2 separate regions of the Homo sapiens genome follow, and region 2 is linked to region 1. Evidence: fine-mapped expression QTL. A gene starts in region 1. The other region holds a variant in brackets. All regions are shown on one strand. Distances are from middle to middle. Region 1 holds the start of STARD8 (StAR related lipid transfer domain containing 8). Region 2 overlaps STARD8 (StAR related lipid transfer domain containing 8).

Evidence for each region. PIP is the estimated chance that this variant, and not a neighbour inherited with it, causes the effect.
Region 2: its variant is the best candidate, but not a certain one, in a credible set for the expression of STARD8 in whole blood (TOPMed, PIP 0.59).

The regions. Positions count from the first base shown.
Region 1 is chrX:68,645,314-68,649,700 of GRCh38, reverse strand. STARD8 (StAR related lipid transfer domain containing 8) reads right to left here and starts at 2,035. Exons shown (of 15, transcript NM_001142503.3): 1 at 1,774-2,035. The coding sequence starts at 1,818. It also overlaps the pseudogene COX6CP12.
Region 2 is chrX:68,682,620-68,687,006 of GRCh38, reverse strand. The region is part of intron 2 of STARD8 (StAR related lipid transfer domain containing 8); the gene reads right to left. Among named protein-coding and RNA genes, the nearest start is that of STARD8, 37 kb to the right of the region's middle. The variant C/T (reference allele first, on the strand shown) is at 2,456.

The DNA.
Region 1 (4,387 bases):
ATAAATAGGGAAACAATCAGCATGTCGCAAACTTTGTAATTTTGCTGAGGGCAGACATTTAAAAAATTTCTCACTCATATTTTGTAGGAGAAAGATCATTTGAATCCCCACCCCCACAGGAAGGACACAACAGTCTCCAAATAAAGAATAGTCCTTTGAGTTGAATTAATTTAGTTTTATGAACACTGCACGACATTATCCCTACTTTTCTCTCATTCCACCACAGATGGTTGAAAAATCTCATTCAGGACCCCTACTAGATGAGGACCATGAATCCACAGATTAATTCCAAACCCTTTGGGAAGTAGTCTCTGCTTCCCTTTCTCAAGCTCCTATCCTCTCTAACCCTACATTTGAGCCACATCACGAAAGAAGCCTTTCCCCCAGCCCACTACCATTTGACTGCCTCCAAACTCTAGCTCACGAAGTTCCCTCTGCCAGGCATGCCTGGAATGCCCTTCCCCCACTTTTGGACTGACAAACTCTTCTCTTCCTTTAAGCCTCAGGCTCAGCCCAAATGTGACCTCCTGTGAAACCTCTCCAAGTCCCTCCCGGTGGAATGGATCTTTCCTTCCCAAAGGTCCCAGCATTCTTTCATCCTGTCTTACAGTCAGGCTAGTCGTTTGAAAGTCTTCCTACTGGGTTGGACTGTGGGAAACCACACAGCGTCAAGAAAGGCATGGACTTAGGAGCTCAGATCCCAGCTCTGCCAGTCATATCTGAGCAACCTTGTAAATATTTCTTAACTATTCACAGTGTCTTTTCCCTATCTATAAAAGCAGGAAAACAATGGGTTGTGCTGAGGATCACTGCCACATGAATGAATTAAAAGTGCCTAGGTCTGGTACATAGTGGATACTAAATAAATATTAGTTTCTTGGTTCTTGAGAGTGGAATCATGCTTTACACACACTTGTGGGTTCGGCTGTGCTCATGTATCCCCCATGGCCAGGATATAGTAGACACTCAACAAATATTTACTGACAAACTGACTATTTAGCACAATGTCTGGCATATAGTAGGTGCCTGGTAAATATTTGTCACTTTTCTTATATTCTCTTTGAGGACAAAAGCCATGTCCTTCTTTGTCTTCTTTTAAAAAATGGAGATGGGGGTCTCCTTATGTTGCCTAAGCTGGTCTTGAACCCCTGGCCTCAAGTGATCCTCCCACCTCGGCCTCCCAGAATGCTGGGATTACAGACGTGAGCCACTGTGTCCAGCCCTTTTTTGTCTTTGTGTAGCTCCAGTGGTGCCTAGCACAGAGTATGTGCTTTTATATATATGGATAGAAATTAATAATAATAATAATAATAGATACCATTGTTTGTGTGGATGCTCCACACCAGGCATCCTGCTAGGAAGCTTACACACATTATCTCCTGGATTTGCATACATTTGCTATGTAAACAATAACACCAACCTCATCACCCCGTAAGGTTGGTGTTACTATGGTCCTCATTCTAAAGCTGAGAGGAAACTGAGGTTCAGAGAGGTTAAGTATCTTGCCTTTGTGGCAAGATCCAGGAAGCAACAGAGGCGAGTTTTATTAAAAAGAGCCAACTAGCAGACTTGTTTGTATGGGAATGCAACAGAAGGTCACAGAACTGGTTAAGTGACAAAGGTGAGACTTGAACCCAAGCCTTTCTAACTCCGAGAGCCTCAGGTAGTCTCAGAAGCCCGTCTGGTCCGTTTTCCCAGCTGGTGCGCAGTGGTCCACATCTGCCTCCTTCCCCCCTGAGCAGCGGGATGGGCTGGGGCTGGCCAGTCACTTACCTTCACCTTCCTGAAGCAAGACCAGAAAACGTCCAGCAGAGGCATGGTGGCGCGTGGGGAGCTTCTAGGGCCGGCGGGGCTGTGCCGGGCACCGGCTCCTCCCTCTCTGGGGACGAGGCTAAAAGAGGCCCGGGGCTCGGCGAGAGCCAGCCCGGTCCCTGCGCTCCATGAGCCGGCCCCGCGAGGGGAGAGGCGGAGAGCAGCGGTTGCCGGGGCTCAGCTGCCTCGACAGCGGGCGCCTCCCGCCTCCTGGAAGGCCACCGAGGGAGGGAAAAAAGGAGGGAGGGAGAGAGGCCGGCTAAGGAGGAGGGACCAGGAGGCGGGTCACTGATTCAAACTCGGCACCGTTAGCCAGTTGGCTGGAACGGGACAGCAATGCCAATTGAAATTCCCTGAACATTACAGTTCCCCGGCTCCGGGTGTCCGGCCCTCCTGCCGGCTCCCCTGCCAGCCCCGCCACCTGCATGCTGGCATTGCCTGCCTGCTTGCTTCTTGGCTGACTGACACGCCAGCTCTCCTTGGGGACCTCTCGGTAGAGCCCAGACCACACAGGGCCTGTGGAAAGAGTGCCAAGGAAAAGGGGCAAGGAAGGAGAGCCCCGGCCCCAGCAGGACCGAACAAGGTGTGAATGCAGTCCACGGAAGGGGAAAAGCTTGCAGCCTTAGAAGCCCCTCTCAGACAGGTGCCCTGGCCCTGCCTCAGTAGATTATTCTCCAGCCCTCTGAAGTGAGGACTCTTGACTCACTGTGGCATCTCGGAGAGGCCCCTTCCTCCTGGGTCTCAGTTTTCCCAGCTGTACAATGAGATGCCGGGTTAGAGGTCTCTAAGTATCAAATCTGTTTGGGGTTAGGTACAGGGCAAGTCTCAAAGAAACTCCACTCTGGACAATCACAGTTCCTCTCAGAACTCCCCTGCTGCTCCTGGGAGTCCATAGGAAGTCAGGTCTTGCCCCAAAGAGAATCTGAGCCCTCAAATGCCATTTCATCCATCCCCCTGCCCCAGGGCATAACAGCAGCTCTCTCCCAGCTCAGATAGACTGGGTGTATGCCCTTTTCTGAACATCTTCTGAAGAGATGATGGCTTCCCTCCTTTATCCAGTCCCATGCTCAGGACCCTCTAAGCCCAGAAGTTTAGCCTGAAATCTAAACTTGAACCCTCTGGATGCCCTGAAAGGAAAGAAAGTCAGCAGCAGGCAGTTCTAGAGGCTTTCTGGGCAGAAAGCCATTAAGAAGCAGTGACCCTCCCCCTCTCTCAGCCCCTCCCCAGACATCAGAAGGCAGGGTGCCATGGCTGGTAGCCAGAAGGCTCCCAGGGACCCCATGGCAAAAGGCCAGGCTTGGGTCTCTGGAGGCACATGTCATCATGAGGCCCAGAATAACTAACTCTCCCTGGCCTCACTTCTGTTTCAGAGACCCAAGCTAGTCAGGCAAACAGCCAGGTCCTGGGACCCTGGAAGGTCCTAGGTTGCTTTAAGCAAGCCTCTACCTGCCTTCGGGGACTTTCTTCATCAGTGGCTTTGTCCGGAGGTTTGTCCAGAGGCTCTGTGAGGGTCCCCCCAGCTCTGTTTACAACTTACTCTGTGACCCTCAGTTTCCTCGTTTGTACCAAGGAGGCTGCAATCACTGACCTCACCCTCTCTCTAGCTCCGACCTCAGGGGTGTCTCAGATGTGAGTTCTGTTGGGCTGTGTCGGGAAGATGGTCAGCAAGAGCCAAGGTAAGTGGCTTCCAACCCACGTCCAGCTGAGCACAGGCTTATAAGGGGAAGCCCTCTGCATGTGGGGGAGGAATAACACGAGGAGTCAGAGCCCAGAGAGAGTTTTCTCCTTTGAGCATATGCCCTCCTGCCCTGCAGCCAGAGACCTGAGGATGGAGAACTGGGAAGCAACTATTACAGGAAAAGCTGCCTGCCCTCCTAGGATGGCCTCATAGTCTTTCACTCTCTGGAGTTCACCTCCTTCTTTCCATTCCAGCCCCTGGGAGGAGATGTGTCAGCCGTGCCTTTGGGCATTCATTCAGGAGGCATTAGTGCGCAGCACACCACATTAAGCTAAGAAACCAGGAGACTTCAGTTTCAATTCTGGGTCTCTCACACCAGTTTTGTCTTGAGGTGGTTTTAAGCCATGAACTCGGAAGTTGACTGCCTGGATTCAATACTAGTTCTGTTACTCTTTAACTGGTGACCTTGGGCCTGTTACTGCCTTAGTGTGCCCATCCGTAAAATGGGGAATAATAATAGTACCTACTTCCTTTGGGAGGTTTAAACAGAATGAATTAAAGCATGTAGTATAGTGTCTGGCATAAAGTACGTTCTCAATATATGTTATTTGTGGCTCATTCTCCATCAGCCAGGAAGGATATTGGTGTTGAGGTTGACATACCTATCAAGGATAATAACTACCATGGCTTCCAGTGCTTTGATGAAACCTCAGACACATGGGTTTCATATTATTGGAGCATTTGTTGCTTCCCTGAGGGTTGCAGCTCTCTATGTTTGCTCTGACCAAACCAAGGAAGAAGGCATGTGCAGATTTTTACAGAAATTATGATTCCATAAAAGATTTTGAGGAGATGAGGAAGGTTGGTACATTTCAGAGTACAAAGTGATTTTGGAAT
Region 2 (4,387 bases), 37 kb before region 1:
AAGACAGGAGGGTGAACAAGCAGACACCAAAGGCAGAGACGAAGAAGGTGCTGGAGGAATGGGTGTAAAGGGACATACTGTTTACTGAACGCCTACCACGTGTTAGTAACCAAAGTGGTGTTCTTTTTGAGCGGAGGATGTAGACAGAGGTGGGTGGGGACGAAGCCGGATAGACTGCTGGGATAAGAGGATGGGGCACCCATAGGGCGGGGCAAGAGCTGCCTAAGAATTAGAAGAAAGAAGGCGTGCGGGGTGGAAAGCCTCAAAAGGGGGCACTGCCGGCCAGGGGTGAGGTTTTAGACAAATGGACATAGGACTCAACGATGAAAACCGGGCTGGAACCAAACAAGGAGGCAGAGGGAGCAGGGAGCTTCGAAGAGCCGGTGCGGGAAGCTCTCCGCGAAGCGCAGCTCAGCCCTGACCTCCCCGCCTGGGGCTGCCTGGCTCTCAGTTCACCTGGATCCCAGCGCGGCGCGTACCACCGGGTGCCCTCCACACCCCACGGAGTCCACGTCCGTGGCTTCGGGAACCGCAACGCCGGACCCCAGCCCCGCGCCTGGGCCATGTGTCCGCGGGCGCCGCGCGGTGCCAGGCGGCTAAGCAGCCCAAGAGCGAGCTGGCGAGCCGGAGTGCTGGCGCCTCGGGTAGTTTTGCCCCGGGACTGAGCGAATCCGCGGGGAGCCCGGGGAGGGAGGGGCTGAGCGGATGATGGCTGTGTTTCCCCGCCCCCTCAGTCGCAATTAGAAAGTTCCACGCCCCCACCTTGAGCAGGAACTCCCCCTTCTCTAGCCTCCAGTCATCTACTCAACTATTCCGCCTCCCCATCACCATAGGAAGCCTTCTTCCAGGTTGGAGTCACCTTCTTTCCAGACTTTTCCAACTTGGCCCCCATCTGCGAGTTTTCCCTCCACTGATTCCTCTCCTTTCTGTTCTCATACCTCGGTGCAAGATAGTGGGGGTGTCTTCCTAGTTATGGGGTCAGCCCCTCCACCTCCTGTCTGCCCCCAAATCTCACCAACCATGTGACATGGAGGAAGGCCTTGTGCAACAGCCAGATGGAGAAGGAAACAATGGCTCTGGCCATCTTGACAGACTGACTCACTCCTCGGCCTCCCTTTACCGCCCCCTGCTTTTCACTCCTCCCTGCAACCACATTCTCTGACTGGCTGGCCTGAGCAACCGACCAGCTGGGTTCCACCAACGACACTTTGAAATCTTTCTAGTACCAGAATATCCTGAAGTGGAATCAGTCCTTATAGACTCCCTTATGTTACAGATGGAAAACTGAGGCCCAAGAATGCAAATGACTTGGCCATCATCTAGGCCGGGGCAGTTATCTCTATGTTGCAGGACTGTTGTAAGGATCTGAAGGACTGATCATGGTGCCTGGCACGGAGTATAGACTTCATTAAGAAAGATTAGCTTTTATTTTCAAAGAGTTTAGCCCCTGGCGTGTACCACAAAAAAAGCCTGGACTAGGACTCTAAGGTACATAACCGTTTTTTCTAATACGCAATCCCCACCACCGCAAGCAAACTTGCATTACCTGACTTGGGGATGGTGGGGGGTCCTGGTTAAATTTGTTTTCAATGGAGATAAGGCCAAAAGTTACCAACAGCTCTCAGACCAGGTCATTTCCATTCTACTTCTGTTGGTGGCCAGTAAAGGGACCAACATCCTAATAGGGCCTCTGCTCTAACTGTGGCATAACCTGGGTGATTTCTCCTCTCTGAGACTCAGTTTCCTCATCTGTAAAATGAGGGTAATATTCCTATGACACGATGGGAATAATGAATGTGCTTTGTGAACGATAAAGGGGTACATGGGTGAAGGTCACAGCCCCTCCCCCCTACTGTCTCCATACCTTGTTCCTGGAATCTAGAGCTAAGCTACTCCATTTGTGAGGGATAAGCTAGAAAAAGGAAGTGCAGTTTCCAGTTGATATGTGCTTATTTGCATGATATTTGCACCCACTTTTCATGAACTCAGTGTCAGAGCTAGAAGGAAATTAGAGGTTAACATGTTGATCTTCATGCCATGCATCCCTTTTCCCCAGGGCAATGGTGGCACATAGCAGGTGTTCACAAAATATTTACTAACTGAATGAATGCATTCTTCATGTGGGGAAGAGGACTTGTCCAAGGTCACACAGTGAGTTTGTTTCAGAACCAAGGCAGATCTGACTCTGCTCCTCCTTCCACTAGGCCATTTCTACTTCATGGAATTATTTTCCTTTTCCCTTCAAATGACCATAAATCAATGGGAAGCCCGTCTCTCCCAGCACCCTCTGGCCTATCAGCAGTCCCCATTCTGGACTAGCCCAGGCAGGACAAACAGCCACTGGGATGCCCCTCTCTGGGCCCAGCTTTCTGCTGCCACCCCGTTGACTCCTGAGTTTCGAGTAGTCCCTGCACTGCGCCTCTCACAGGGGCAGCCCCCTCCCCCACGCCGCCCG[C/T]GGAAAAGGAGGCCTCAGTCAGCTTCCTCCAAGCAGAGGAGTTTCCCTTTTGCTCTCCGGTTGGGCGGGAGTGTGGGACATAGCCCCCGGCAGTGGCAGCGGCCTAGAAGGAAGGGCGGCAGCAGTCACTTCCCACCCTGCTAAGGCATCTCCCGCCCTGTCCAGTCCCACCCCTATTTCCTGAGTTCTGCTGCTTCAGCTCCAGCCAGAACAGTGATATGAAAGAGCTCCGAAGATTCACTTGAGTCACAGAGCCCTGTTGCTGGGAAGGACCTTCGAGGTTATTTATTCCCACCACCTCCCCACTCCAGGCAGGAATGCCTGCTGTTAGCAAAGAGGAGGAGAGGGGGCACCTTACTGAACCTCCACAGCTTCAAGTTTCTCCTCCAGATAATGGACATAATATGACACATAGCTGACAATGGTGCTGTGAGAGGAGATGCAAGAATGGATCTAATAAAAGCTGATGTGGATTGAGCACAAGCTATACCAGACATTGTTCTAAGTGCTTATTTAATTCTTACCACAATGCTCTGAAGTATATATATCATCATCATTACCCCAGTTTACAGTTGGAGAAACTCAGAAGCAGCAAAGGTAATCCAAATTGCTCATAAGTGGCAGTGGCAGGATTGGGACCTCGAGCCTCCATCTTCACCCATATATAACGGTGGTAATCATCCTTACCCCCAGAGAATGATTGGACCCCCTTGAGAGTTACTTGAATTCACAAGTGTTTGTTTTACTGTAACTTTTGTATTCAAGTACCCCTAAGGGCTGAGAGGGAAGAATGTGATGAAACCTTGGGGGGCTGATGATGTAAACCTGAAGTGTTGGCTCCAAGTGGGAATGTCTTTGAAGTCCAGCTTTTATCTTAAACATCCACTTGAATTTTCAGTTAACTCTAGTATGCATCCTTGTTTTCTTATTAAAATTCATCTTTTCCTTCCTTAAGCCTTTGAGGAAAATGTACACTCCAGGAAGAGGAGACATACCGGTCTAATACCTTCATATGCCTCCAGGCCATGGCCTTGTACCCCAGGGGTAGCAGGCACCTGGTTCAGTAAAAGATAGGCCCTTAGTCACTGAGAATAGCTAAGGTTTATGGAGTGTTTGTCATGTGAGCCAGCATTCTAAGCACTTTCTATATATGATTTAATCATCATATATAACTCTATGATAAGCTGAATTATTATTGCTACCATTTTCAATGGGAAAACTGTAGCATAGAGAGGTTAAATAATTTGCCCAAGGTCATACAGTTTGGACTGTCAGCTTTAGCTAGTAACCACTGTACATACTGCCTCTCAGGCCACATGGAGTTTCTCTTACCTACCTACCTCCACCACTTCCCACCAGGATGATTGATTTGATTATTGGCAGAAGCAGGCCTTATTCCAATTAGAAGATCAGCTCCTTGAGGGCAGTGACAAGGGGGCTCCCTGCTGCCCCTTTCCCTATATCGATGCTAATCCTGGGGCTGAGCCATGCACAGGGCTGGTCCAGCGTTCAGATTTGGCAACTGACTGTTTCCTGGCTGGTGGCAGTCTCTTGGGCCTAGCACCTGTTGAGCTGGTGGATACAGCACTAGCATTTCACACAGGAGTCCTCTGCCACACTCTGTGGCAAAGATCTAGCTTTAGAAATGGTTGCCCATCACCTACAGGGACAAGTCCACACTTCTAAGACTGGCATTCAAAGCACCCACAAGACTGCCCAGTTAACGCAGGTGGCATTCCCAGAACACACCTCCTTAACCCACCAAATGTGTTACATGTGCACTTCTCTCTCACAAGAATGCTCATCCTTATTTCCTTTACTTATTTCACAAACATTTATATGGTGCTTTCAATGTGCCTGACTCTATCCTCAGCTCTTTGCACATTTTAACTCATAAAGTCCTTACAGAAACCCTGTAGGTACTATTATCCC